Linked DNA regions of Homo sapiens: all the other regions are linked to region 3. The links come from fine-mapping of genetic effects on gene expression. A gene starts in region 3. Each other region holds a variant in brackets. All regions are shown on one strand. Distances are from middle to middle.

Region 1 (5,038 bases), 75 kb after region 3:
ATTAATGTTTTGCCTTAAGCTGGATAAGTTTTCAGCCACAAATATTTTTTCTACTTTTTTTTCCCTCTTCTGATACTTTCGTTATGCAAATGTTGGTGCACATAATGGTGTCCCACATTTCTCTAAGGCTGTGTTCATTTTTCTTCTTTTTTATTTTCTGTTTTCCAGTTGCATAATTTCTATAGATCTGTCTTTAGTAGATTTTTCTTGTAGCCCAAATATACTGTTGAGTCCCTCTAGTGAATTTTTCGTTTCAGTTATGGGACTTTTTACTTCCAGAATTTCCATTTGGTTTTTTCTGTGATTTATATCTCTTTATTATTCTCTATTTTATGGTATATTGTCATTCCTTCCATTACTTCTCTAAGTATGGTTTCCTTTAGTTATTTGAGCATAAAATATTTATAACTGCTTTGAAGTCTTCATATGCTAAATCCACCATCTGGGCCTCTTCAAAGGCAGTTTCCGTTGCCTGCTTTTTCCCTGTATATGGGCCATACTTTCCTTTTTCTTTGCATGTCTCATAATTTCTTGTAGAAAACTAGACATTTTAGATAATGTGTGGTAGCAACTCTGGATTCTGATTCCACCCCTCTCCCCAGAGGCCTGCTGTTGTTTGCTCCTTTATTTGTTTAGTGACTTGGCTGGACTATTTCAGTGAAGTTTGTTTTCCTCACAGTGTGAAGCTTCTGACTGTTGCTCCTCAGAGGCACAGGCTTGGACAGGAACACAGTCACCCTGCGAAGACCCTGATTTTTGCAGGGCTCTCTTTGAGTGTCTTTCTCTGATCTCTCATTTAAGCTTTCCACCTCTGTTGGTACCACACCAACAGCTGTTAGAGTTCACTAATTTTGTTCTGTTGTTCTCCATAATGCCCTGGAACCTGAATTGCCTCACAGTCTGAGATCATTTAAATTCAGGCCTACATGTAGTCTTTAAGGTCAGTCTTTGAGACTTGTTCCTACTACATGAGAACTCTTCTTAGCTGTCTCTTTCTCTGGTTCTGTCTGTCAGACGTTTGGCTGGTCTGGAAGAGCAGTGGCTCACACCTGTTAATCACTTTGGGAGGACAGGGTGGGAGGATCACTTGAGGCCAGGAATTTGAGACCAGCCTGGGCAACATAGCGAGACCTCATAGCAGTCAACCAACAAACCAACAACACTTTTAGCTGGTCCGTGTGTTAGTGTGTTGTTCTCATGGAGCTTCTGGCCTCCTCTTAATTCTCAGCCACTCTTGCCTGGAATAAAGTTTCTGCAACATGCAGCTGGGGACAAAGAGAAATTCTGGCAGCCAGCCTGCCCCTCCCAGGAAGGTATCATAGCCCTAGGCTTGAGCTGAGGGGAGGGGAACCCTTGTTTGGGGTTCCATCTGCCAGGAGAAGAGCTTTCTTCTCACTGACACTGTGGGGGTGGGGAGGGAGTGCATCATATGCCACAGACCCTCACGATTCTTACTGAGAGTTAGATTTTCTTAGATAAATGTTCTCCATTTTAGAATGTCCTTAGCATAATTTCTAGAGACTTTTAAAGGTTTTGTTTTTTTAACAATAATTTTCACCAGTTATGGTTGTTTTGTTGGGGAAAGGGTCTGTGGAGCTCCTTATGCCACCCTTCTAGAAATTGGTTCTGGTAAAAGTTATAATGAATAATGTATAAGATGAAAAAACTGTACAGAAAGAGCTCAAGAAATAGCTCTCAAATCTCATGAATGTGGCTGGGCATGGTGGCTTACACCTGTAATCCCAGCACTTCGGGAGGCTGAGGTGGGCGGATCACGAGGTCAAGAGATCGACACTATCCTGGCCAACATGATGAAACCCCGTGTCTACTAAAAATACAAAAATTAGCTGGATGTGGTGGTGTGTGCCTGTAGTCCCGGCTACTCGGGAGGCTGAGGCAGGAGAATCACTTGAACCTGGGAGGTGGAGGTTGCAGTGAGCCGAGATCGTGCCACTGCACTCCAGCCTGGCGACAGAGCAAGACTCAGTCTCAAATAAATAAATAAATAAATAAAAATCTCATGAATGCAATCCCAAGTGAATTTAATTCAATGACTGTACTAAAACTTTCTTTGCAAAATGTTGTTCAGGCTTATCAATAGTCTTTCATTTACCTAATTTATTTTGTATGTTGATTCAGCAGATCGTTAGACTGGAATTCTAATGGAGCTAAAAGTTTTTATTCTATTATCTTTATTGAATGTTAAGAATGTTTGGCTTTTCCTGTACTTAAGTATGACTGTCTCTCTCTCTTTAATGTACTTCTACTCTAACACCTGCTTTTCTGTGGATGGGTTTTTGATTGGCTAGAAACTGGAGGAAGCAGCATCTCGTGCAGCAGAAGAGGAAAAGAAACGCCTTCAGACTCAAGTGGAACTTCAGGCCAGGTTCAGCACAGAGCTGGAAAGAGAGAAGCTTGTGAGTATCACATGGCTGGAGAAAGCAGCTGCAGTAGCTCAGCCTGGGTC[G/A]GTGGGAACAGGGAAGGGCTGGAGGCTACAGTGAGGCATGTCATCAGCTTGGCTTTGCTACTGACCTGGAATGGGCTGTAGGGGAAGTTGCATGTTTGTTCATTCATTAATTATCTGTTTATTGAACACCTTCTATGTGCCAGGCAGTGTGCCAAAGATGTAATGGCAAAAGACATAAACCTTGTTTTCAAGACTCCTAAGTGGAAATTTATGGAGCCAGGCATGGTGGCCCACTCCTGTAATCCCAGCACTTTGGGAGGCCAAGGCATGAGAATTGCTTGAGCCCAGGAGTTCAAGACCAGCCTGGGCAATATCTACAAAAAAAAAAAAAAAAAAAAGAATTAGCCAGGCCTGTTGGTACATGCCTGTAGTTCCAGCTACTTAGGAGGCTGAGGTGGGAGGATTGCTTGAGCCCAGGAGTTCAAGGCTACTGTGAGCTGTGATTTTGCCACTGCACTCCAGCCTGGGTGACAGAGCAAGGCCCTGTCTCCAAAAAAGAAAAAAAAAGAAATTTGTGGAATGATGTGATAAATGCTTGGTTAGGGTGACTATATTTCCTGGTTTGCCTGGGAGAGTCCCTGCCATTCTGGTATAATTATTAATAACATTCCTTTTCATTCTCAAAACAGTTCTGATTTGGAAAATAAATAGTTATGGAAAAAGTAAGCATAGGTTCCATGGTATATCTCCTCTGTAATAAGCAAGGATGGCGGGGGTGAGATCCTGAAATTGTGAGAACATCTAGAGTCTGATTTGTTGCTCTTGGCAGCTCCGGTTCATCCTAGAGGCTTCCATCTTCAAGAGACCCAAGATCCAGGTTGTCTTAGGTAGTTAGCTGGTTAGCTGGAACACAGGTCTTCTCACATTGAGTGATACTCTGTCAGAGAGTGCTAAGCCCAGTGCCTAAATAGATGCATGTGACATTTCCTCTAGTCACTTTTTGTTATTTAGAGTTGAAAGAGATGTGTTTGTGGTTCAGAGAAAAGAGGAAGGCAAATGTGATGTAGAGAAACAGCCAGAATGTCTGGTCTTGTTTCCTCTCTGGTCCTTCTTACTGAACATTGGCTTTTTCTTCTTTAAGTTCAGGATTATCACATGCTCTCTCATGACTCTTCTGAAGACAGAGTGAGCTAATGCAAGTGAAAATATTTTATCAACTGCAGAGAAATAGGCTAATGTGTTTGTTATATTTAGGATGTTCTTGTCTTGTAATTTTTAAGGCAGGGATTCAAAACTCTGTAATCCAGAAGGGAAAAACCATTAACGTATACAGATTAACTGAAATGCTTGAGTTCCTCTAGGGCTGGAGGTGCCCCAGGGAGTGGAGACAGCCAGGGAAGTGTGGGAGGAATCCCATGCTGGATGACCTTTCCTTCTTCTTTAGTGTAACACTAAAGAAGACTGGGAAAAGGTTCGTTTGCTCTGACTGGGAAAAGGTTCGTTCCTTTTAGAGAAGACCCTATTGGTAAAAAGATTGTGACTTTAAGACAGAAAGGAATTTAGAGAGAAATTACACAAGGAAACATTTTTTTCTTGACTTGAGTCTTAAAATGTGGAGTGGAAGGGATGGAAAATACAGCAGGGCAGAACATAATTTGGGTTATAATTTGCTCTTCCCAGACTCTTTCACTATTGCGATTGGGTGTGGTACCCTCATCTCCTCCATCTTTAAGTTCAAGGATTGAAGGACAGGGTCCTGCCACCCTGATGGGCTGAGGCTGCAGCTGTGGGCAACCCCTCAGGTGGAGGTGAGGCTTTCCCTGAGAAAGAAGTCAACCTGCATTTAAACAAGACCCTTTTATACCAACAGATCAGACAGCAGATGGAAGAACAGGTTGCTCAAAAGTCCTCTGAACTGGAACAGTATTTACAGCGAGTACGGGAGCTGGAAGACATGTACCTAAAGCTGCAGGAGGCTCTTGAAGATGAGAGACAGGCCCGGCAAGATGAAGAGACAGTGCGGAAGCTTCAGGCCAGGTGCCAGATTTGTTTGCAGACTTTGCCTTTATGTACTTTGCCTGGGCTAATACAGTTTCTTGGAATGACTAACACTCTGGTGGAGAGGGAGAAGTGTCTCTGCTCTGGCTGTGACTGAGCTCGAGGTGCTGTCCAGATTAGAAAGACTGTGGAGACTCGACCGGCTGGAGTGTTTCTTTTCATTCTGAGGCGCTGGGAAACCCTTGCTTCTGGGGCTAAATAAGGGCCTATTTTAGAGCAGTCTGGTAGGTATGTTTGATGAGGTACCCTTAGTCTTATTCGAGAAAATCCACAAACCCAGAATTACCTCTGATAAGAGCTTGGCATCTTCAACACGCTCCAGACCAGAGAGGGCCATTGGTATGCAGGCAGAGGCCTGTTCAGGCCAACGTTGCCGTCAGGTTTTGAGGAATAAGGAAGAAATATGCAGTTTCTATTTGGTCATTCAGGATTGGTAACATTCCTTCAGTAATTACTACTTGAAATCCTAATTTTAAAAGTATTTGAAACCTAGATTTTTTTTCCCCTTAGAACTTTATGATAGTCATGTTCGCAGATGAAAATTCTCAATTTTGGGCCTTCATGGCAGCAGGG
Region 2 (5,038 bases), 28 kb before region 3:
GGAGACTAATAATTTCCCTGTAGTTATTTTTATTAAAGTTTCTCATCTATTTTTCTTATTATTTATAATAACTATTTATTTGATTATTTTGGGTTTTCCAGATCTATCTTATTTTTAACCAGCCACTTTGAGTTGGTCTTCTTTTTTTAAGAAGCCAATACTTACTTAGACTTATCCGTATGAATACCTATTTGTGCTATTACTTCAGGTATTTGGGGTTCAATTTTCTTTGTGCTGACAAATATTTTTAATCATTATTTCAGGAAGAAACTGGGTGGTTTGTATGTTGGAAATTATCTGTATTTGCCTCTCCTTCTTTAATGCTAGTTTAGCTGGGTAGAATTTCAGTTTGACAATTATTTTCCATCAGTAATTTAAAAGCTATTTCTTTGTCTTTGGGCATCTATTGTTGAAGAGTAGCTTGCAGTGGTTTGTTATTCTTCTGTAAGTAGTCTGTCTTTTTCTACTGGTTATTTTTATGATATTAGGTTCTTATATTTGATGTTTTCCAAAGCTATCACACTGGCTGGACATGACTTTATTCGTATTTTGCTCAGTATCTATGGCCTGCACCTGCTAGATTATGTGGGTTCATGTCCCATTGGTGTAGAAACAGACTTGAGGTTCCTGTTTTTCATAGCTGATTCTTTTCCTCCCTGTGGTCTAGGCCAATGGCAAGCTTTCTTGTTCCTTCCCCAAATTGGTAAGTAGAGTTTTTCTTTTCTCCTGTGGGGAGCAAATAAAATCTTTATTCCAACTTCAGATCTCGTCAGGGCTCAAGGCCTCATTTCCTGCTGCCATGCCAAGACCTATTCTGTCTTAGCTTCAGATTCTCTTTACTGTGGTAGCTTTGGGTTCCCTTTTGATTTGTGGCACCTGGGAATGTCTCTTTCTTACTTTCAATCTCAGATATATCTTTAGGGATTTTATCGTGAAGGGATGTTGAATTTTATCAAATGTTTTTTCAGTATTGCTTGAAATGATCATATGGTTCTAATCCTTCATTCTGTTGATATGATGTATCACATTGATTGATTTGCACATGTTGAACCATCTTTGCATCCCATGGATAAATCCCACTTGGTCATGATGAATGATCTTTCTAATCTATTGCTGAATTCAGTTTGCTATGATTTTGTTGAGGATTTTTGCATTAATATTCATCAGAGATATTGGCCTGTAATTTTCTTTTTTTAATGTGCCTTTGTCTGGCTTTGGTATCAGGGTGATACTGGCATTGTAGAATGAGTTTGACAGTATTCTCTTCTCCTCTATTTTTTCGGAATAGTTTGAGTAGGATTGGTATTATTTCTTTAAATGTTTGGTAGAATTCAGCAGTGATGCCATTGGGTCCCAGGCTGTCTTTTACTGGAAGATTTTTCATTACTGCTTTGATCTTGTTACTCGTTATTGTTCTGTTCAGGGTTTGGATTTCTTCCTGGTTTAATCTTGGTAGGTTGTATGTGTCTAGGAATTTTTCCATTTCTTCTAGATTTTCCAATTTACTGGCATATAGTTGTTCATAGTAGCCACCAATGATCCTCCGAATTTCTGCAGTATCAATTGTAATGTCTCCTTTTTCATTGCTGATTCTATTTATTTGGATCTTCTCTCTCTCCCTTTCTCTGTTTTATTTTGAGATAGTGTCTCGCTTGGTTGCCCAGCTGGAGTGCAGTGGTGCAATCTCGGCTCACTGCAGCCTCAGTCTCCTGGGCCCAATCAATTCTCCTACATCAGCCTCTGGTTAGCTGGGATTACAGGTATGTGCCACGACTCCCAGCTAATTTTTTATTTTTTTGTAGAGACGAGGTTTCACCATTTTGCCCAGGCTGGTCTCGAACTCCTGGCTCAAGTAATCCGCGCACCTTAGCTTCCCAAAGTGTTGGGCTTACAGGCACGAGCCACTGCACCTGGGCCTTCTCTCTTTTTTTCTTAGTTTGGCTATCATATATGTCTCTAAAAATTACTCAGCATTTCTATTTGTGTGAGAGATGATTCCTGCCTCAGTTCAGTCAGCTTGTCTGATTTTGAGACACTATTTTGGGCTGGGAGTGGTAGCTCATGTCTGTAATCCCAGCACTTTGGGAGGCCAAGGCGGGTAGATTGCTTGAGCCCAGGAGTTCAAGGCTAGCCTGGGCAACATGGCAAAACCCTGTCTCTACCAATAAAATACAAAAGTTGGATGTGGTGGCATATACCTGCAGTCCCAGCTACTCAGGAGGCTGAGGTGGGAAGATCGCTTGAGCCCTGGAGGTAGACGCTGTAGTGAGCTGTAATCATGTCACTGTACTCTAGCCTGGGTGACAGAGCAAGACCCTGTGTTAAAAAAAGAAAAGAAAAAGAAAAGAAGACACTATTTTGGAACTAAAAGCCAAGAATTTGACTTTTTTTCCTGAGTGGGTTCTTTCGAATTCTCTTTACTGGGTCAATAGCCTCATCCCCAAGATATAGGGCAACTAAGCTAGCCAAAATTGAGTATCAGTCACTTGCAGCCAATCTTTAATACAGTGGGGTCTGAGAATTTCTGGCCTTCAGGATAAAGTTCAAGTCCTCCAAACTTTCTGCCCCAAGTATGTTTCTAACTCAGTTTCCTACTTTCCTCTCTTATCTACCCAATGCTTTAGAGAAACCAAA[G/C]GTGCTTGTTATTTTCTGTGTACCTCTGAGCTTTCTCATATCCATGTCCTTGCATATAATGTGCTCTTTTCTGTTTGTTTGTTTTGAGATGGAGTCTCGCTGTTGCCCAGGCTGGAGTGCAGTGGGGCGATCTCGGCTCACTGCAACCTCCGCCTCCAGAGTTCAAGTGATTCTTCTGCCTCAGCCTCCCAAGTAGCTGGGACTGTAGGCGCGTGCCACCACGCCTGGCTAATTTTTTGTATTTTTTTTAGTAGAGACGGGGTTTCACCACGTTTGCCAGGCTGGTCTCGGACTCCTGACCTCGTGTTTCGCCTGCCTCGGCCTCCCAAAGTGCTGGGATTACAGGCGTGAGCCACCACACCTGGCCCTATGTCTTTGCGTATGATGCGCTCTTTACCCAGGTACTTTTTTTTCCCCAGGTGACTGGGTCTCGTTCTGTCACCCAGTCAGGAGTGCAGTGGCATGATCCTAACTCACTGCAGCCTCAAACTCCTGGGCTCACACAATCCTCCTGCCACAGCCTCCCAAGTAACTAACCATACACTTTTGGCATTACTGCAGGCCAAATCCAACACGTCTTTCAAAGTCCAGCTCAATGGGTGCTGCTATGAAGCCTGACTAATCTTCTCAGCTTAAAGTTTTGTGTGCTTCCTCTGTATTTCTGCGATTGAAGAAGTCCACTGCAGTGTAAAGGACTCAAGCTGTGAATTGATATCAGGACTTAGGGGCTCAGGACCTGGCTCTGTTACTCCTTAGCTGCCTCTTTTTACCTATCTCAGCTTCAGTTATTATCTAAAACAGATGGAAATATTTCCCTCACAGAATTAAAGTCACTTTTATGACCATTTTGGTTTTGAGTGAAGGAAAATCCATCCTGAAGAGGGCATAGATTGGTTTATATAGGTGAAAAGTCCAGGGGTAGAGATGGCTTCAGGCATGGGGTGGACTCAAAGCTCAAATGCTATCAGCAGGAGTCTGACTATCTTCTCTAAGAGCTGCCTTTTGCTCTGTCACCTTTATGCCCAGGTTCAAAGAGTAGCCTGATGGCTGGCAGCACTCTTAGAACCCAATCTTTCTGCTTCAAGTCCAGCTGACTAGCTTGAGAACATCTTTCTCAAGTCACAACAAAGTTATCACGGACTCTCATTGGGTCATGTGCCCATCCCTGAGGTGGTCACTATGGCCAGGAGAATTTGATGCTTGGATTGCCTAGGGCCCAGGGGACTTGTTCTACCTCAGACCCTGGGGTGCATCCCTGGCAGCAACACATGGGATGAGTGTGGGTGGGTGGAGTTTCTGCAATGAGAAGTTAGGGTGCATTTCCAGCATGGTGAAAGGATGCTAGATGAGAATAACTGCAGAGCTCCACCATAGTTGTGCTGGGGATCAAGTGAGACAATATGAGGAAACTGACTTCGAAAGTCCTGATCAGGCTAGGCGTGGTTATACCAGCACTTTGGGAGGTCAAGGCAGGGAGATTGCTTGAGGCCAGGAGTTCGAGACCAGCCTGGGCAACGTGTCAAGACCCTGTCTCTACCAAAAAACAAAACAAAACAAAAACCAAATTAGCCAGGTGTGGTGACATGTGCCTATAGTCCTAGCTACTCAGGAGGCTGAGGTGGGAGGATTGCTTGAGCCCAGGAGTTCGAGGTTGTAGTGAGCTATGGTGGTGCCATTGCACTCCAGCATGGTGACAGAGAGAGACCCTATCTCAAAAAAACAAAAAAGAAGTCCTGTTCAAACATAAATGATTATTATTATTTGGTTATGTTTCTCTGTGGCACTTAGCACTTTTTTCCTTCTAGCCAGAGTTACCCACTTCATAGTTTAATCTTCCCTACTCCACCCTGAGCAGCTGGAGAGCACGGTCTGTGTTCTAGTAATCTCTAGAGGATTCCACCATTTCAACTCAGCACCCAGAAAATATAAGGTACCCAATAGATGATTGTGGAATAACTTGATTAGTCTGAAATCCAAAGCATTGCGCCCAGAGTTCTGTTAATCCCTAGGCCAAAATCTCAAAAGGCTTTCAAGAACTTGAACCTTTCCCTGGAATCATAGCTAAATAAGCTCTGGCCTTTTTCATAGTGGGTGGGGTGAGATAAATAATTTCAGGAAGATGTGTCCTTGCATTGATTTGTTCACCTGGCCAACCTAAGGCCATCCAGAGAAAGAAAAGTCTTGGTTTGTTTATTTTCTGTTTATTTATTAAATTTCTGGTTTATTTTGCTCTTACTGCCCTCGTTAAATGGTGTGGGCTTCAGGAAAGTGCAGACTGAATGAAGTAACTTCCCGAAGGCGCTGACCTGCAGGGCAGGTTTGGGGCTCCCTCCTGGTCCAGGAGGCCTAAGCGTCCAGGAAGTTTTGAGTTTAATGAAAGGAATTGGTGATCAGTTCTAGTCAA
Region 3 (5,038 bases):
AAGAGACATTGCAACTTCCATCTTTCTCTTTCTTGAATCAATTGAAAGCCAGCTGACGTGTTGTAAGGATACTCAAGCAGCCTGAGGACAGGCCCATATACAGAGGAACTGAGGCCTTCTGTAAACGACCCATCCATGTGAGTGAACCACCTTGGAAATAGATTTTCCAGCATCAGCCTAGCCTTCAAATGACTACAGCCCTATATTTTACTGCAACCTCCTGAGACACTTCAAGCCAGAACTATAGAGCTAAGTGGCTTCTAAATTCCTGACTTACAGAAAATATGAAATAATGTTTACTATAGTTTTAAGCTGCTAAATTTTGGGTTAATTGGTTACACAGCATTAGATTAATATAATCTGTTAGATTCTGAAGCACAACTCTTTACTTTTCTTTCTTTCTTATTTTCAATTTTTTTGTGGAGACGGGGTTTTGCTACATTGCCCAGGCTGGTCTTGAACTCCTGGCCTCAAGCAATCCTCCCACCCCAGTCTCTCAAAGTGTTGGGATTACAGGCAGGAGCCACTGCACCCAGGAAAAGCACAGCGCTTTCTATGACATCATGCTACTTTAAAATTTGTTTGGATAGGAAGGGCATGGTGGCTCACGCCTGTAATCCCAGCACTTTGGGAGGCCAAGGAGGGCAGCTCACTTGAGGCTGGGAGTTTGAGACCAACCTGGCCAACATGGCGAAACCCCATCTCTACTAAAAATAAAAAAATTAGCCGGGCGTGGTGGCTGGCGCCTGTAATCCCAGCTACTTGGGAGGTTGAGGCAGGAGAATCGCTTGAACCCGGGAGGCGGAGGTTGCAGTGAGCTGAGATCATACCGTTGCACTCCAGCCTGGGCAACAGAGTGAGACTCTGTCTCAAAAAAAAAAGAAAAGAAAAAAAAAGAAAAAAAATGCGTTTGGATTGTATGAATGAGGATGATGGGAGAAGTAGGAATTTGGAAGTCCACAATGTCCTGGTCTTGTCATAAAAAAAAGGCTTTGAAATATGTTTGGTACTTCCAGATACTGAGAGAGAAGAAGGGTCATATAGTGGTTAAACTGAACCTTGAGAATTAGGAGGTTTTCTTCGTTTCTTTTTTCTTCTTCTTCTTTTTTTTTTTTTTTTGCTACTCAGGGTAAGCTGACTTCGCATGAATAAATCAGAGGTTAAACCATGTGGTTTTGCTGACTGGCAGACTTGGGCTGGAAATGGGGAAGATAAATGATAGAAATTGGATTCTGGTAGGGCAAGAAAAGTCCTGACAAATGGTGATGAAATGGGGTAGAACCTTCAGGACAGTCACAGTGAGGGGCTGGCCACCCTTTTGCTCCTGCCCCTTCTTTCGTCAGTGGGGCCATCCTCTCCTCTTCCCCACCAGTTCCTTTTTGATCTCAAACTCACTGAAGAGGCTCCTTCTTGTTCTTCTCTTTCCAAATATCCCTTTCTTATGAAGATCTTTTCCTTTCTTAATAAGGCAAACATGTGCATTAAGGAACTTAAAAAAGCAAAACAAAACCAAACTTCATCTGAGAACCACCTCATTTTAAAAACTCTTGGTGTTTATTGTTCTCTCCAATTAGTCCAGGATTGGAGAGGAGAGGTACTGAGCCTGGCGATTTAATCAGACCTTAGTTAACCGGCAATAGTTATTATCCTAGGATGCTAGTACTGCAAGAACCCTTCCAGAACATCTGGTGCAACCCTGCTCTTTTTATACGGGATAATTTGAAGCCCAAAGAGATCAAGTGACCATTGTGACCACCGCGAACAGATATTAATTCAACAGCTGCAATCGAATACTTTTTTTTTTTTTTTTGAGACGGAGTTTCACTCTTGTTGCCCAGGCTGGAGTGCAATGGCGCGATCTTGGTTCACTGCAACCTCCGCCTACCGGGTTCAAGCGATTCTCCTGCCTCAGCCTCCCGAGTAGCTGAGATTACAGGCATGTGCCACCACGCCCGGCTAATTTTGTATTTTTAGTAGAGACGGGGTTTCTTCATGTTGGTCAGGCTGGTCTCGAACCCCCGACCTCAGGTGATCCGCCCGCCTTGGCCTCCCAAAGGGCTGGGATTACAGGCGTGAGCCACCACGCCTGGCCGAATACGTTCTTTTAAATGGTCCATCTCTTTGGATTAGTAAAATGGGTGGAGTGATTTGGAATTGGCCCAGATCTCCTATTCTGCAAGCAGAGAAACACTACAGAGAGGTATTACCCAGGTCAAACCCCTCCTAAGATGTGAATTGAACAACAGCTAGGCGTTAGGAAGAAAATGCTGCCTGACCCTGACTTCTAAACTCCCCTTAAACGTCGTCGCTGTGTCCCTAGAACCCAAGATAGAGTATGCATGAATAAACTTTTGCGAAATGAACCAACAAACTTCCCTCGAGGTCCTTCCTGCCTCCCCGCCGCCCTGCATCTCCCCGACTTGGGACTGCGCTATCATTTCAGTCCTGGTCTGGGGACTTTTCGGGGTCTTCTCTGGCCTTCTCAGACAGTGACTCCGTTCCCAGGACAGGACCAGGGATCCCTTTTTCACTGCGGGGCGCTGGGAGGAGGCGGGTAGGCTGCTCACCTAATCTCTCGGGTTTTTCCTCAAGACGCGGTCATTTGTGTGAGGTGTTGTACTCGAGCACCCAAAATGGCCCGAACTGGTCTGGGAAACATTAGGGAGATGTGTTTACCGTCCTGGCTGACACTGAAGGCCAAGCATTCTTGCCACCAGGCGTGGCTTGACTCGCAGAACCCACACTCTGGCGGCTGTGGGCGCGGCACTGGACCGGCGCCGGCAGCAGGGCGGGGCCTGGCGGGGGCGGGGCCTGGCGGGTCAGGTGACTGCGCGGCGGGCTGTGGCTGCGGAGGTTGAGGGGCGTCCGAGGCGCGGAGGGGCTGGCTGGGCAGGAGGGGTTGGCGGGGCAGCAGGGCCGCGGCCATGGGGAGCTTGAAGGAGGAGCTGCTCAAAGCCATCTGGCACGCCTTCACCGCACTCGACCAGGACCACAGCGGCAAGGTCTCCAAGTCCCAGCTCAAGGTGGGCGCCTCCTGACCCGGCCCCCCACCCGACCCTCCCCGGCGCGCTCTGTACTTCCCTTGGGTGGAAGCGGGACCTGGCGGGCCGTGACCGCAGGGCGGGGCGGGTCGGAATGCGCCCGGTAGGCCCGCTTGGGGCGGAGTGGGTCTGAGACCGGGATTTGGTGTTTACTGCCTCCCCCTTGCCTTCGGGCCATGCCCTCGGTTGGATGTGTTAGTTCCCGCGGGTCTCCCAGGGACTGGGAAGGGTGGCGGGCATAAGGCTGGGGTGAAGTCTGGAGGGCCAAGTGTGATTCCTTCTTGGCGTTGGAGAGCGGGGGGCAGAAAGTGGATTCTGAGGCGGCAATGGGAAGCTCCCTTACACAGCCTTCCCAGAATTTTCCTCTTACTCCAGGAGAGGAAGGGACTTGCCCAAGGTCGCTGGGCAGAACCTTCTGCAGCCCACAGCCCCACACCAGGACAGTCCTCAAAACGGCTAGCTGCCCCGGAGGCGACAGGGCAGTCCGGAGACGCAGAAATGCCCCGAAGCCCGGCCTCCAGGGTCCTTCTCCTTTGGGAGGCTTTTTGACTTGGGAAGACCTTCCGCCCAGCGTCTTTTAAGTTTGGAACTAGTGGACGGGGTGTACTGTGTCCCACAGGGACCTTAGTTCCGGGTGAGGAGCGCTGATCTTTCTGGCACCCTGCAAAAGCGACTGCTTTTTCAGAGTCGTTATTGTGACTGCCGGAGACCCTAGAGTATAGGGTATAAATAAAGGGATGCTTGTAAATTGAGTAACCCCAAGCAGCGAAATTGGCATTAAGCCAGCAGAAATTGGCAGCTTCTTCAAAGTAAAAAAATATAGAAACAGACAAGAAAAGCTATTCATAGGCATTTAAAAATATACATATTTTAGATCCGAATGTCCGGTTTTCTTAGCCCCTTCTGGGAATAAATTCTGAAGATTGGGTTTGTTTTGTATATTTTTGTACAGTAATCCCGTTCTTCTGAGTAGTGGCTTTTATGCCAGTAGGACTTAACATTCTCCTTGTCTTCCTTTTGCCTCTCCTTTCTTTTTCTCACTGATAGAATCATAGTCTGGAAGGGTCCATGGAGATCATCCACGTAATTTTTATTTTACTTCATTTTTAAATATTAACATACAGTAAAATTGACTTTTGGTGTACAGTTCTATAAATTTCAACATATGTATAGATTTATATAACTATCACCACAACCATGGCTTCCTCAGTTCCATCATCCTAAAAAACTCCCTGATGTTGCCCTGCCTCCACCCCAACTGTCGGCAACCATTGATCTTTCCTAATTGCTATAGTTTTACCTTTTCCGAAGTGCCATGTAAATGGAGTCATATAGTTTGTAACTGTTGAAACTGATTTCTTTTACCCAGCATAATGCCTTAGAGATTAATCCATTTTGTTGTGTGTACCAATAATTTTTTAAATTGCTAAGTAATATTCTATTGCATGGATGTATGGTAGTTTTTAGCCATGCATCTGTGAGAATTTGTGTTATTTCCAGTTCGGGGGAGTTATGAGTAGGTCTACATTTTACTTTTATTTTTACTTTTAACTTACCTATGCCATTTTATTTAAAGTAAGTTTTTAATAAATAGATGTAGCTGGGTCTTTTTTTTTATTCATTCTGACAATCTCTGTCTTTTAATTGGTATATTTAGGCCATTTACATTTAATGTAATTATTGATATGGTTTGATTTAGGGCTACCATTTTATTATAATTTGGTTTCTGCTTTTTTTTTTTCCTCTCTTTTTCTTCCATCTTTGGGATTATTTGAATATGCTTTAGTTTTTTGTTTTTTTTTTTTCTGAGACACAGTCTTGCCCTGTTGCCCAGGCTGGAGTGCGGTGGTGTGATCTCGGCTCACTGCAACGTCTGTCTCCTAGGTTCTAGAGATTCTCGTGCCTCAGCCTCCCAAGTAGCTGGGATTGCAGGTGTGCGTCACCACACCTAGCTAATTTTTGTATTTTTAGTAGAAACGGGGTTTCACCATGTTGGC
Region 4 (5,038 bases), 110 kb before region 3:
TTCTCCTATGCTGTGGGTTGTCTCTTCACTTTGCTGTTTCCTTTGCTGTGCAGAAGCTTTTAAACTTGATGTGATCTCATTTGTCCATTTTTGCTTTGGTTGCCTGTGCTTGTGGGGCATTATTCAAGAAACCTTTGCCCAGTCTAATGTCCTGGAGCGTTTCCTCAATATATTCTTTAGTAGTTTCATAGTTTGAGGTCTGAGATTTAAGTCGTTAATCCATTTTGATTTGAGTTTTGTATATAGTGAAAGACAGGGGTCTAGTTTCATTCTTCTGCATATGGATATCCAGTTTTCTCAGCACCATTTGTTGAAGACGCTGTCTTTTCTCCATTGTATGCTCTTGGCCCCTTTGTTGAGAAATGAGTTCACCTTAGATGTATGGATTTGTTTCTGGGTTCTCTATTCTGTTCCATTAGTCCATGTGTCTGCTTTTATGCCTGTACTATGCTGTTTTGGTTACCACAGTTCTGTAGTATAATTTGAAGTCAGGTAATGTGATTCCTCCAGTTTTTTTGTTTTTGTTTTTGTTTTTTTTCTCAGGATAGCTTTGGCTATTTTGGATCTTTTGCAGTTCCATATAAATTTTAGGATTGTGTTTTCTCTTTCTGTGGAGAATGTCTTTAGTATTTTGATAGGTATTGTATTGAATACATAGATTACTTTGGATAGTATGGACATTTTAACAATATGGATTCTTCCAATCCATGAACATGGACTATTTTTCCTTTTTTAATGTCCTCTTCAATTTCTTTCAATAATGTTTTATAGTTTTCATTGTAGAAATCTTCCACTTCTTTGGTTAAATTAATTCCTAGGTATGTTATTTTATTTGTAGCTATTGTAAATGGGATTACTTTTATGATTTTTCACATTGTTTACTGTTGGCATATAGAAACATTTTTTATTATTTTTTAATTTTTAATTTTAATTTTTAGTTAGTTATTTTTTGAGACGGAGTCTAGCTCTGTCACCAGGCTGGAGTGCAGTGGCGTGATCTCAGCTCACTGTAACCTCCGCCTCCCGGGTTCAAGCAATTTTCCTGCCTCAGCCTCCCAAGTAGCTGGGATTACAGGCACACACCGCCATCCCCAGCTAATTTTTGTACTTTTAGTAGAGATGGGGGTTTCACCACATTGGCCAGGATGGTCTTGATCTCCTGACCTCGTGATCTGCCCACCTCAGCCTCTGAAAGTGCTGGGATTACAGGCCGATTTTAAAATTTATTTTAATTTATTTTTTATTTTTTATTTTTTTGGGGGAGGATGAAGTCTTACTCTGTTGCCTAGGCTGGAGTGCAGTGGTGCGATCTCAGCTGACCGCAATCTCTGCCTCCCAGGTTCAAGTGATTCTCTTGCCTCGGCCTCCTGAGTAGCTGGGACTATAGGTGCGCACCACCATGCTTGGACAATTTTTGTATATTTAGTAGACACAGGGTTTCACCATGTTGGCCAGGCTGGTCTTGAACGCCTGACCTTGTGATCCACCCGCCTCTGCCTCCCAAAGTGCTGGGATTACAGGCTTGAGCCACCATGCCTGGCCTAGAAATGATTTTTATATGTTATGTTCTCTTTTTTTTTAACCCAATAATAGCTGTGTGTACTGATATATGTTGATTTTGCATGTTGACTTTTGTATATTGTTTTATTTCCTGCAAGTTTACTGAATTTGTATATCTGTTCTAATAATTTTTTAGTGGTGTCTTTAGGTTTTTCTAAATATAAGATCATATCATCTGCAAACAAGGATAATTTGATTTCTTCCTTTCCAATTTGGATGCCCTTTCTTTCTCTTTCTTGTCTGATTGCTCTAGCTGGGACTTCCAGTACCATGTTGCATAACAGTGATGAAAGTGGGCATCCTTGTCATGCTCTAGATCTTAGAAGAAAGACTTTCAGTTTTTCACCATTGAGTATGACACTAGCTGTGGGTCTGTCATGTAGGGCTATGTTGAAGTATGTTCTTATTTTTTTTTTTTTCCAGACAGAGTTTCACTCTTGTCACCGAGGCTGGAGTGCAATGGTGCAATCTCGGCTCACTGCAACCTCCGCCTCCTGGGTTCAAGTGATTCTCCTGCCTCAGCCTCCTGAGTAGCTGGGATCACAGGTGTGCGCCACCATGCTTGGCTAATTTTTTTGTATTTTTAGTAGAGATGGGGTTTCACCATGTTGGTCAGGCCGGTCTCGAATTCCTGACCTCAAGTGATCCACCTACCTTGGCCTCCCAAAGTGCTGGGATTTCAGGTGTGAGCCACCGCGCCCGGCCAAAACATGTTCCTTCTACACCCAGGTTTTTTTAGGGTTTTTATAATGAAGGGATGTTGAATTTTATCAAATGCTTTTTCAGTGTGAATTGAAATGATAGTATAGTTTTGTCCCTCATTCTGTAGATATGATGTATTGCATTGATTGATTTGCATATGACATCCTTGCATCCTTGCGTCCTTGCATCCCTGGGATAAATCTCACTTGGTCATGATGAATCATCTTTTTAATGTGTTGTTGAATTCAGTTTGCTATTAAGGTGAGTGCAAAACTATTGCAGTTTTTGCATTGTTGGAATTTGCCGTTTGATGTTGGAATACATTCTTCAATAAATGTGGTTAGGTCATACATCATTTTAATGGACATTTCTCGCTTTATGTTTTCTTGCTAATGACTTATTATTTGTTGTTTATTTTATGTTTATTTTAGACTACGGAAATTATGTTAGACAAAAAGCAAATTAGAGCAATTTTCTTATTTGGGTTCAAAATGGGTCATAAAGCAGCAAGAAAACTCATAACATCAATAAGGCATTTGGCCCAGGAACTGCTAATGAATGTACAGTACAGTGGTGGTTCAAGAAGTTTTGCAAAGGAGACAAGAGCCTTGAAGATGAGGAGTGTATGGCCAGCCATCAGAAGTTGA[C/T]AATGACCAATTGACAGCAATCATCAAAGCTGATCCTCTTACAACTACATGAGAAATTGCCAAAGAACTCCACCTCGACCATTCTATGGTCATGTGGCATTTGAAGCAAATTGAAAAGGTGAAAAAGGTGGGAAAAAAAGGTGAAAAAAAGGTGTCTTGATAAGTGGGTGCTTCATGAGCTGAGCAAAAATTTTAAAAAATGTTGTCTTGAAGTGTTGTTTTCTCTTATTCTATGCAATAACAGTGAACCATTTCTTGATCGGATTGTGACATGTGACAAAAAGTGGATTTTATACAACAACTGGTGACGACCAGCTTAGTGGTTGGACTGAGAAGAAGCTCCGAAGCACTTCCCAAAGCCAAACTTGCACCAAAAAAGGTCATGGCCACTGTTTGGTGGTCTGCTGCTGGTCTGATCCAGTATAGCTTTCTGAATCCTGGCAAAACCATTACATCTGAGAACTATGCTCAGCAAACGGACGAGATGCACCAAAAACTGCAACAACTGCAGCCAGCATTGGTCAACAGAAAGGGCCCAATTCTTCTCCAGGACAACACCCAAACACACGTCACACAACCAACGCTTCAAAAGTTGAGCAAATTGGGCTATGAAGTTTTGCCTCATCTGCCATACTCACCTGACCTCTCACCAACTGACTACCACTTCTACAAGCATCTCAACAACTTTTTGTACGGAAAACGCTTCCACAACCAGCAGGATGCAGAAAATGATTTCCAAGAGTTTGTTGAATCCTGAAGCATGGATTTTTACACCATAGGAATAAAGATTTCTCACTGGCAAAAATGTGTTGATTGTAATGTTTCCTGTTTTGATTAATAAAGATGTGTTTGAGCCTAGTTATAATGATTTAAAATTTACAGTCTGAAACCGCAATTACTTTTGCAGCAACCTAATAGTATTTGGTTGAGGATTTTTGCATCAATGTTCATCAGGGATATTGGCCTGTTGTTTTCTTTCTTTTTTCTTTTCTTTCTTTCTTTTTTTTTTTTTTTTTTGATGTGTCTTTGTCTGGTTTTGCTATCAGGGTAATAATGGCCTCATGGAATGAGTTTGAAAGTATTCCCTCCTCCTCAATTTTTTTGAATAGTTTGAGTAGGATTGGTATTAGTTATTTAAATGTTTGGTAAAATTCATCAGTGAAACTATTGAGCCCCAGGCTATTCTTTGCCAGCAGACTTTTTATTTTGGCTTTGAAATTGTTACTTACTATTGGTCTGTTAAAGTTTTGAATTTCTTCATGGTTCAACTCAGTAGGTTTCATGTATCTAGAAATTTATCTATTTTTTTCTAGGTTTTCCAATTTGTTGGCATATACTTACTCATAGTAGTACCTAAGATCCTTTGAATTTCTTGGTATCAGTTGTAACGTCTCCCTTTTCAAAACCTCTCATTTTATTTATTTCGGTCTTCTCTCTTTTTTTCTTAGTCTGGCTAAAGGTTTGTCATTTTGTTTATCTTTTCTTTCTTTCTTTTTTTTTTTGAGACGGAGTCTCGCTCTGTCACCCAGGCTGGAGTGCAGTGGCACGATCTTGGCTCACTGCAAGCCCCGCCTCCCAGGTTCACGCCATTCTCCTGCCTCAGCCTCCCGAGTAGCTGGGACTACAGGCGCCCACCACCAGGCCCAGCTAATTTTTTGTATTTTTTAGTAGAGACGGGGTTTCACCGTGGTTTCGATCTCCTGACCTTGTGATCCCCCCCACCTCAGCCTCCCAAAGTGCTGGGATTACAGGTGTGAGCCATCACGCCCGGCCTTATTTGTCTTTTCAAAAAATGATTTTTTTGTTTTCATCCTTTGTATTATTTGTTTCAATTTCATTTATTTCTGCTCTGGTCTTTATTATTTCTTTTCTTCTACTGACTTTGGGTTTGGTTTGTGCTTGCTTTTCTAGTTCTTTAAGAGACACCATTAGGTTGTTTACCTGAAGTTTGTATGTTTGTTCATTTGTTTGTTTGAGACAGAGTCTCACTCAGTCACCCAGGCCGGAGCGCAGTGGCCAATCTTGGCTCACTGCAACCTCCGCCTCCCAGGTCCAAGCAATTCGCATGCCTCAGCCGCCCAAGTAGCTGGGACTATAGACATGTGCCACCGTGCCTGGCTAATTTTTTT

The links. PIP is the estimated chance that this variant, and not a neighbour inherited with it, causes the effect.
Region 1: its variant is fine-mapped to the expression of SWAP70 in whole blood (TOPMed, PIP above 0.99).
Region 2: its variant is fine-mapped to the expression of SWAP70 in whole blood (INTERVAL, PIP above 0.99).
Region 4: its variant is fine-mapped to the expression of SWAP70 in T cells (TOPMed, PIP 0.98).

The regions. Positions count from the first base shown.
Region 1 is chr11:9,735,904-9,740,941 of GRCh38, forward strand. It overlaps SWAP70 (switching B cell complex subunit SWAP70), which reads left to right. Exons shown (of 12, transcript NM_015055.4): 8 at 2,310-2,417; 9 at 4,278-4,444. Among named protein-coding and RNA genes, the nearest start is that of SBF2-AS1, 20 kb to the right of the region's middle. RefSeq lists an enhancer at 4,553-4,672. The variant G/A (reference allele first, on the strand shown) is at 2,468.
Region 2 is chr11:9,633,241-9,638,278 of GRCh38, forward strand. No RefSeq gene overlaps it. Among named protein-coding and RNA genes, the nearest start is that of SWAP70, 28 kb to the right of the region's middle. The variant G/C (reference allele first, on the strand shown) is at 2,635.
Region 3 is chr11:9,661,256-9,666,293 of GRCh38, forward strand. SWAP70 (switching B cell complex subunit SWAP70) reads left to right here and starts at 2,822. Exons shown (of 12, transcript NM_015055.4): 1 at 2,822-3,023. The coding sequence starts at 2,925. RefSeq lists enhancers at 2,000-2,199, 3,310-3,429 and a silencer at 2,670-3,169.
Region 4 is chr11:9,553,717-9,558,754 of GRCh38, forward strand. No RefSeq gene overlaps it. Among named protein-coding and RNA genes, the nearest start is that of WEE1, 17 kb to the right of the region's middle. The variant C/T (reference allele first, on the strand shown) is at 2,910.